Linked DNA regions of Homo sapiens. The protein of the gene in region 2 purifies or fractionates together with the protein of the main gene of each other region. This does not show direct contact. Each region holds a gene or a part of one and is shown on either strand. Other genes may lie near its edges. The genes, in order: FAM234A and TAS2R8.

Evidence for each region.
Region 1: the proteins of TAS2R8 (region 2) and FAM234A purify together in Homo sapiens (affinity purification with mass spectrometry; one large-scale study listed by BioGRID and IntAct). This does not show direct contact.

Annotation. Positions count from the first base shown.
Region 1 is NC_000016.10:262,031-265,847, reverse strand, and holds part of FAM234A (protein FAM234A), read right to left. Parts: intron 3,756-3,817; coding exon 3,623-3,755; intron 3,425-3,622; coding exon 3,295-3,424; intron 2,587-3,294; coding exon 2,446-2,586; intron 2,149-2,445; coding exon 2,073-2,148; intron 1,833-2,072; coding exon 1,677-1,832; intron 1,235-1,676; coding exon 1,132-1,234; intron 1,038-1,131; coding exon 826-1,037; 3' UTR 1-825.
Region 2 is NC_000012.12:10,805,407-10,808,959, reverse strand, and holds TAS2R8 (taste receptor type 2 member 8), read left to right. Parts: upstream 1-1,673; 5' UTR 1,674-1,979; coding exon 1,980-2,909; downstream 2,910-3,553. UniProt on the Homo sapiens protein: Receptor that may play a role in the perception of bitterness and is gustducin-linked. May play a role in sensing the chemical composition of the gastrointestinal content.

The DNA.
Region 1 (3,817 bases), on a different chromosome or scaffold from region 2:
TCAGGGACAGAGCAGCTCCAGTGTCTACTGAGAGGGCACAGACTGACCCAAACACGCATTCCACAGCCAGTTCCTTGGGATATTCACAGCACATGCAGCCAGTAGACAGCTGCAACACCACTAAGGACACCTGTGAGCGGCCACGGGCTCAGCTCCAGAGCAGGCCCCACCCATCCTGCTGGGGGAGACCCTTGCTCCAGGCTTCCTCACAGGACCTGGTCAAAGGAACCAAGTCACACCCCCCATGCTAGAGGATCCCCCTGTAGCTCCGGGAAGGGCTGCGAAGCTGGAGCTGTCTCAGGTTCCCGTTGAGGCCCAGTACCCTGAGTTCCATGACTCCTTGGGGGACAGAGCACAGGAGGGAAAAGGGGAATGGACTTCTACAGGATGGGGTGGGGGACGGCCTGTCCCGGGGACACCCTGGTTCTTTCTACGCGATGGCCGCTCTGGCCTGGGGAGAAGCTGGCAAGGAGAGGGCACCGGGTAAGGATGGGGTGCTGCATGACCCAGCTCTGCCCAAGGTGGCCAGGGAGACCACTATGAAGGCTGCCTGGTGTGAGCGGGACCCTGGTGGGGTGCAGAGTGAGGCCCTGTGTGGGGACTCAGGGAGGATGCTGGGCGGGAGAGAGGCCCAGGGTGTCCCCTCACCCATGCAGGTCCCTGGGTGTGATCATGGAGGACTGGTAAGGCTGCTGCTGCCCAGTGGCGACCATCACCAGGGTCAGGAGTGGGGGAGTCAGTGCAGAGACCCAGGGAAGGGCCCACTTCCCAGGACGTTTAGTGTCAGCAGGCGGAGTCTCTCCACAGGCTCTGGCTGGCGTGCCTCTACGCCTCACTCTGGTACCGCAGCCGGGAGAACCGGTCCCTGATGGCTTGGTCACTGTCTGGCCCACCCTCACCCAGGCGGACCACCCTGCTGCTTGGGACAAGGTCCCGCACCTTGTGCTTGATCACAGAGACCAGGCCGGGTGCCTCTGAGTCTGCCGGGCCTGTCAGAAGGATGTAGGCGGCGTGGCGGCTTGGCTCAAACAGGACGGCTGCAGGGTGGGGGACACAGCTGTCAGGGCGGCTCAGGACCAGCCAGGGCAGACCCCGCGGAACACCCGGGTCCCTGGCCGAGGCCACACTCACCGTCAAAGGCGACAATGTGGGTAGAGACATTGGCCAGCTCCAGCAGCACGCGCGGCAGGGTGGGGTGGAACATGTACAGGCTGTGCCGGGCCTCCCCGGTCTCCTGGAGCGAGAACCAGCAATGGGCCCCACGCCCTTCACTGAGCACTCCCACAGGACACTGCTGTCAGAGTGACCGTGCCTGGAGCTCTATGTCTGCTAGGGGCCCTATCTGGGTCCCCCAAATGCCAGCCCCCAGTTCTGTGGCCACCTCCCAGGTCCTCCCACCCCACCTGGTCCTGACACTGGTCCTTGCCGGCAGCCACTCCCTTCAGGGCATGGCTGTGTGCGCCCCTATCCACCGAAGGCCATCAGCCCCTTCTCGCTGGACCCCTCTAAGGTCACTTTGCCTCAGCTTGCACCACCTCATCCTGACTGTCACTGGACTTCAACTTATGTGAGGTTGCCCAGGCACCGATGAGCTTCTGGGCACTCCACGGTGGAGCTCCAGCCTGGGTCTCTGGCCCCGGCTCCCAGCATGGCTGCTCCGAGGGTGGCTCCCGTACCGTCTCGCTGGTGCTCCCCAGCTCGTGGAGGCCCCAGAAGAAGAAGGCTGAGCGGTGGTCTGCGGTCGGCAGGCTGGCGGACAGTGGACCCCCAGGGAGGCTCGGGAGGGCTAGGCTACACAGGACGGCTCCAGTGCCAAGGTCCAGAAACAGGATCTGGGGAGGGAGGGGACACTGTGGGGGCCAACGTGGGGGCTACCGGGAAAAGCTCGAGGCTTGCACAGGCACACGTGCCCTCAGCCATGCCAGCCCTGGAGGCAGATGCTCTGAGGGAGGCAGAACCTTCTCAGCAGCTCTGACGGCAGCAGCCTCCTGGGCCGCAGCCCCGTCTGCTTTCAGACCAGTCTATCCTCAGCTAAGAACAAAGGTGCCACCTCCGAAGGAAGAACAACGAACCTGTCTGTCGGTGCCAGTTCCGTTTTCAACGGCTACAGCCAAGGTGTCTGGTTTGTAGCGGCCGAAGATGGGTTTTCTGGAACAATATGGAGGAAGCGCTCACGAGGGGTCTCAGTGAGGAGACTGAGATGAAGGAAGCACCCAGGAACACGTCCGCCCCTCAGTCTCCCATGGCCACATCTGGACCAGGGCCCAGGACACGGAGCCGACGTCTGGGGCAAGGGGCAAGTACCAGAGACAGGCAAGAAGCCCGGGCAGCAGCACACGGCCTCCGGCCCCACCCCCAGCGCTGTCTCCTCGCCAGCCAACGGGATGTGCCCGGGATGCCGGGAAGGGGTGCAGCACCTGCGCGGTCCTTGGGGAAACCCTGTACCTCAGGACATGGGCTGCCTTGGGTGTCCAGCGAGGCGTCAGCTCCTGCCCGTCCAGCAGCACGAAGGCCTCTGAGCCCACAAGAAGCACATCTGCACCGGCGTTCCCTGGGACATGCATCAGGTAGCGCACTGCTCCAGAGCTAGACAGGAGAGTGGGAGAAAGGGGCGCCGGGTCCCCGGGGCGGCCTCAGGCACCCAGTGGAGGCTCTGGCACCGCCCGTCTCAGGGTGCTCCTCTTAGGCCCCCATAACCCGTTTCTCAGTTCTACAGCTTGAAAAGAGAAGAGCTGGGCGCGGTGGCTCATGCCTGTAATTCCAGCACTTTGGGAGGCCGAGGCGGGCGGATCACGAGGTCAGAAGTTCGAGACCAGTCTGACCAACATGGAGAAACCCCGTCTCTACTAAAAATGCAAAAATTAGCTGGGCGTGGAGGTGCGCGCCTGTAATCCCAGCTACTCGGGAGGCTGGGGCAGGAGAATCACTTGAACCCGGGAGGCGGAGGTTGCAGTGAACCGAGATCGCACCACTGCACTCCAGCCTGGGGGACAGGGCAAGACTCCGTCTTAAAAAAAAAAAACAACCAAAAAAAAAAAAAACAGAAAAGAGAAGAAAGACCCCCACTTTCCGTGGAGACAGACAGGCACAGCGTCGGGAACCTTTCTTCTCTTTACTCAACTTTTATTTGACCATTTCTCACATCTGAGCCCAGGGTGACCTTGCGGTACCCCGAGCACCTCCCTGCCGGTGGGGCTGCTCTGGGCTCCACACAGATTGTCCGAACGCTGAGGCAGGCGAGCAGAGCCATGGGGTGGGCGCTCTGCATGGAGAAAGGCTGCGGCCCGGACCCACCTGTGGGAAAGCATCCTGCGGGTGGTGGCATTGAGCATGCTCTCCCAGTGCGGGTCACTCTTGAACGGGCCGCCGCTCCCGGTCACCTTCTCGTAGAGACCCTTCACAGAGCAGCCGCAGAGGGAGCTTGCTATTCAAAACACAGAAGGGCCCGAGGTCACCAGGGTCACGCTGTGAACCCGGACCAGGGGCACGCAGTGCCACATGGAGCCAGGCCCCTGGGCTTCCTGACTCCAGCACCTCGAGAGCAGAAGCAGGACCTGAGGAGCCGCAGGGCAGTCATGCTCCACGAGTGAGGCTGGCCAGGGATGTGGCAGAAACAACGTACCGCAGGGAAAGAGGATGTAGTGGGCACCTGTCCTGGTGACGTGAAGGAGGAAGCCACTTTCCCCGTCCACACCAAGGCTGCCTCTGAGGCCAATCTGGTGCCCGGTGCTGCCGGAGTAGAGGTGGCCACTAACCTGCAATGACACAGGATGACACAGGAAGAGAGGGACCTGAGCCTGGGGCTGCAAGGACACAA
Region 2 (3,553 bases):
AATGTTATCATTGCACCGTATATTCTTTGTCGTTGCAGAAAAAAAAAATGCATCTAAATCCCACACTAACATTTCATCATTTTATGTCATTGACTAAATACAAAGAGGTTCTACTTCTTTTCTGACAAATACTGGCAAAGGCCTTGAACTCAATGAGTAGAAGAATGTCAGGCAAACAGGCTTTGGGGAAAAGATTTTAGAACTCATCAACCCTTGCTATAAAATCAATCATGCAAAACAACTCTCTACTTTGAAATGAAGGCCGGTCCTTATCTTCACCGCCCTTTCCTCTCCATTTCTGGAAGGGTTTGTCTTGATCAAGAAGGGAGAAAAACAATCTTTAATGAGATTCTATCTAAGATGATATATGATGTGGGAAAAGGAGTATAATCTCAAGAATGAAAGTTTGACAGAGAGAGGAGGCACAGTTATGTATAGCAGAACCACCTTGAGAAAGAAGGTTGAGGGTCCCAGTAGTCAGCGTGTTCATGAGTACTCTAGCTGGTGATGGCAATTTTAGAAGTCATTTCCCAAAGATTCCCTGGAATGTTCTCTCTAGCCTTCTAACTCAGAAATCTCTGACATATTTTTTTCCCTCTGCATCATTTTCTTTTCTATTTTGTTTCCAGCAGTAGTTTATAGATAACTAGGTTTCTTTAAGTTATTAAGTTTATGCTTTCCTGTTACACATTACACACATGTAAGAAATAGAAAAAATCCTGCATGTGTTGTATACATTGTAGAACTATTTAAATACAAGAAGCCCTAGGGTATTGTGATTTGTATTACCTACATTCAAATGTATTTTGGGCTAAGTTGTACTTTCCCTTACCCCAAAACAAATAAATCTAATTTAATAGTAGAATTAGTCCTATTCCTTGGAAATACTGGTATGTAAAAAAAAAAAATTATTATTATTATTTTGAGACAGAGTCTCACTGTATCGCCCAGGTTGGAGTGCAGTGGCACGATCTTGGCTCACTGCAACCTCTGCCTCCCGGTTCAAATGATCCCCCTGCCTCAGTCTCCCAAGTAGTTACTTTTTTATGTGTTTGCCCTATCTAGAAATATGACTATAATATGCACTGTGAGATTACAAATCTTATAAAAGGAGTTGATTGGAACTAGAATAATGTAAAATTTAAATTTTCTTAATTTTAGATTACAATGCTTATTATACAAGAGACAGTGATTCAGGAAATGAATTGTCTTCAAGGGTATTTGTCACATTAAAAAAAAACTAAAGATAACAAATCTTTACCTGGCATATTTCACTTCTGAGGAACAATTGAAAAGAAAGCAAATTCTTAGTAAATATTATCATGTGCCTGCCTAAAAAAAAGTCATTTCTAATTAGATTTGTATTATATCCTTCCCTAATTAGCCGTTTAAATGAAGACAAGAATTATTATCCTCTGACTAAATGTTAAATATCTACAATCTAATTGTACTAATTACTTCCAAAGTGAAAATTTCTTTGCATCTGGGAGAACTGATTTGTGGCTTATTTATAACTTACATGATGAAAATGAAGTTTTATTTACACAGTTGGGTTTTTATTAAACATTTATCTCTTTTTTTATGACTCCCTATTCAAAACTCAATTTGAAGATCCAAATATAGAGCTACAGCAAGAAGCCTGTTGCAAATTCATGATATAAAATCTCTTTGAATTTGCATGGGAGCAATTTCAGCCAAACATTTCAGGTATCACTCACTAAAGGATAATAATTATAATTTTTCCAGGCTATAAATAACTAGTCAAGCTGCTCATTAGTTGGTTTCATCTTCAGGAGTGTAGAGACAATCCTATTTCAGAGGAGAGCTGAACACTTCCGGAAGAATAACAACGTCGAAATAACAGCAGATGAAAACATTATTGCATGATTCGAAGAATTGATCTATCATGCTTTAACAGGTCACCTGTAAATTAGCTCATCTACAGTGATATTTGAAATCAGATTGTTCTCTCTACAAACATGTTCAGTCCTGCAGATAACATCTTTATAATCCTAATAACTGGAGAATTCATACTAGGAATATTGGGGAATGGATACATTGCACTAGTCAACTGGATTGACTGGATTAAGAAGAAAAAGATTTCCACAGTTGACTACATCCTTACCAATTTAGTTATCGCCAGAATTTGTTTGATCAGTGTAATGGTTGTAAATGGCATTGTAATAGTACTGAACCCAGATGTTTATACAAAAAATAAACAACAGATAGTCATTTTTACCTTCTGGACATTTGCCAACTACTTAAATATGTGGATTACCACCTGCCTTAATGTCTTCTATTTTCTGAAGATAGCCAGTTCCTCTCATCCACTTTTTCTCTGGCTGAAGTGGAAAATTGATATGGTGGTGCACTGGATCCTGCTGGGATGCTTTGCCATTTCCTTGTTGGTCAGCCTTATAGCAGCAATAGTACTGAGTTGTGATTATAGGTTTCATGCAATTGCCAAACATAAAAGAAACATTACTGAAATGTTCCATGTGAGTAAAATACCATACTTTGAACCCTTGACTCTCTTTAACCTGTTTGCAATTGTCCCATTTATTGTGTCACTGATATCATTTTTCCTTTTAGTAAGATCTTTATGGAGACATACCAAGCAAATAAAACTCTATGCTACCGGCAGTAGAGACCCCAGCACAGAAGTTCATGTGAGAGCCATTAAAACTATGACTTCATTTATCTTCTTTTTTTTCCTATACTATATTTCTTCTATTTTGATGACCTTTAGCTATCTTATGACAAAATACAAGTTAGCTGTGGAGTTTGGAGAGATTGCAGCAATTCTCTACCCCTTGGGTCACTCACTTATTTTAATTGTTTTAAATAATAAACTGAGGCAGACATTTGTCAGAATGCTGACATGTAGAAAAATTGCCTGCATGATATGAAATCTTAGCTGTATAAATGGAATTTAAAACCAAATCTTCTCTAACAAAAAATATAGTTTTCTTAATAGTCTATTCTCATTTTTCCCCAGTTATCTCATTTATTTTGGATGCATATCTTTAAATATTATTAGGACCTAGTAGCAAACTACTGAATACATCTTTTCTATCCCTTTACAACTCAGAAATGCTCATCTTTACACTCCCTTTCCTCGAAGAATTTCAGAGCTCATGCTTCTCTTCTTGTCTCCTCAACGCAAGTGTTAGGCCTGTATTGCCTAGTTAAAGTCTTTTTAGATTTTACTTTGGCTCATGGTAAAGTGGACCTGAGCTACAGTAACTGGTTTCTCATTTTTCTTTGTCATACATTTTTATTGCCGCTCCTTAATTGTGCTCCTTTCATGGCTCTGCTGAGTCACCCCCATTTGGCTTATTGATTAGGAACTCAGATGTTCTCTGGTCTGTCTTTGGTTTTCCCGAATGATGATTTCCATGGTCTCCTAGGTAATATTTTCTGGTTGACCTTATTCTGATGATTTCTATTGATTTTCCTTGGAATTAAATTTCCTCTCAAACAACTTGCTTTTCATGCAGCACCTAGGTGGGAATCGAACCCATTCAAGTGCCACCCACCAAGGGGTGTTCCT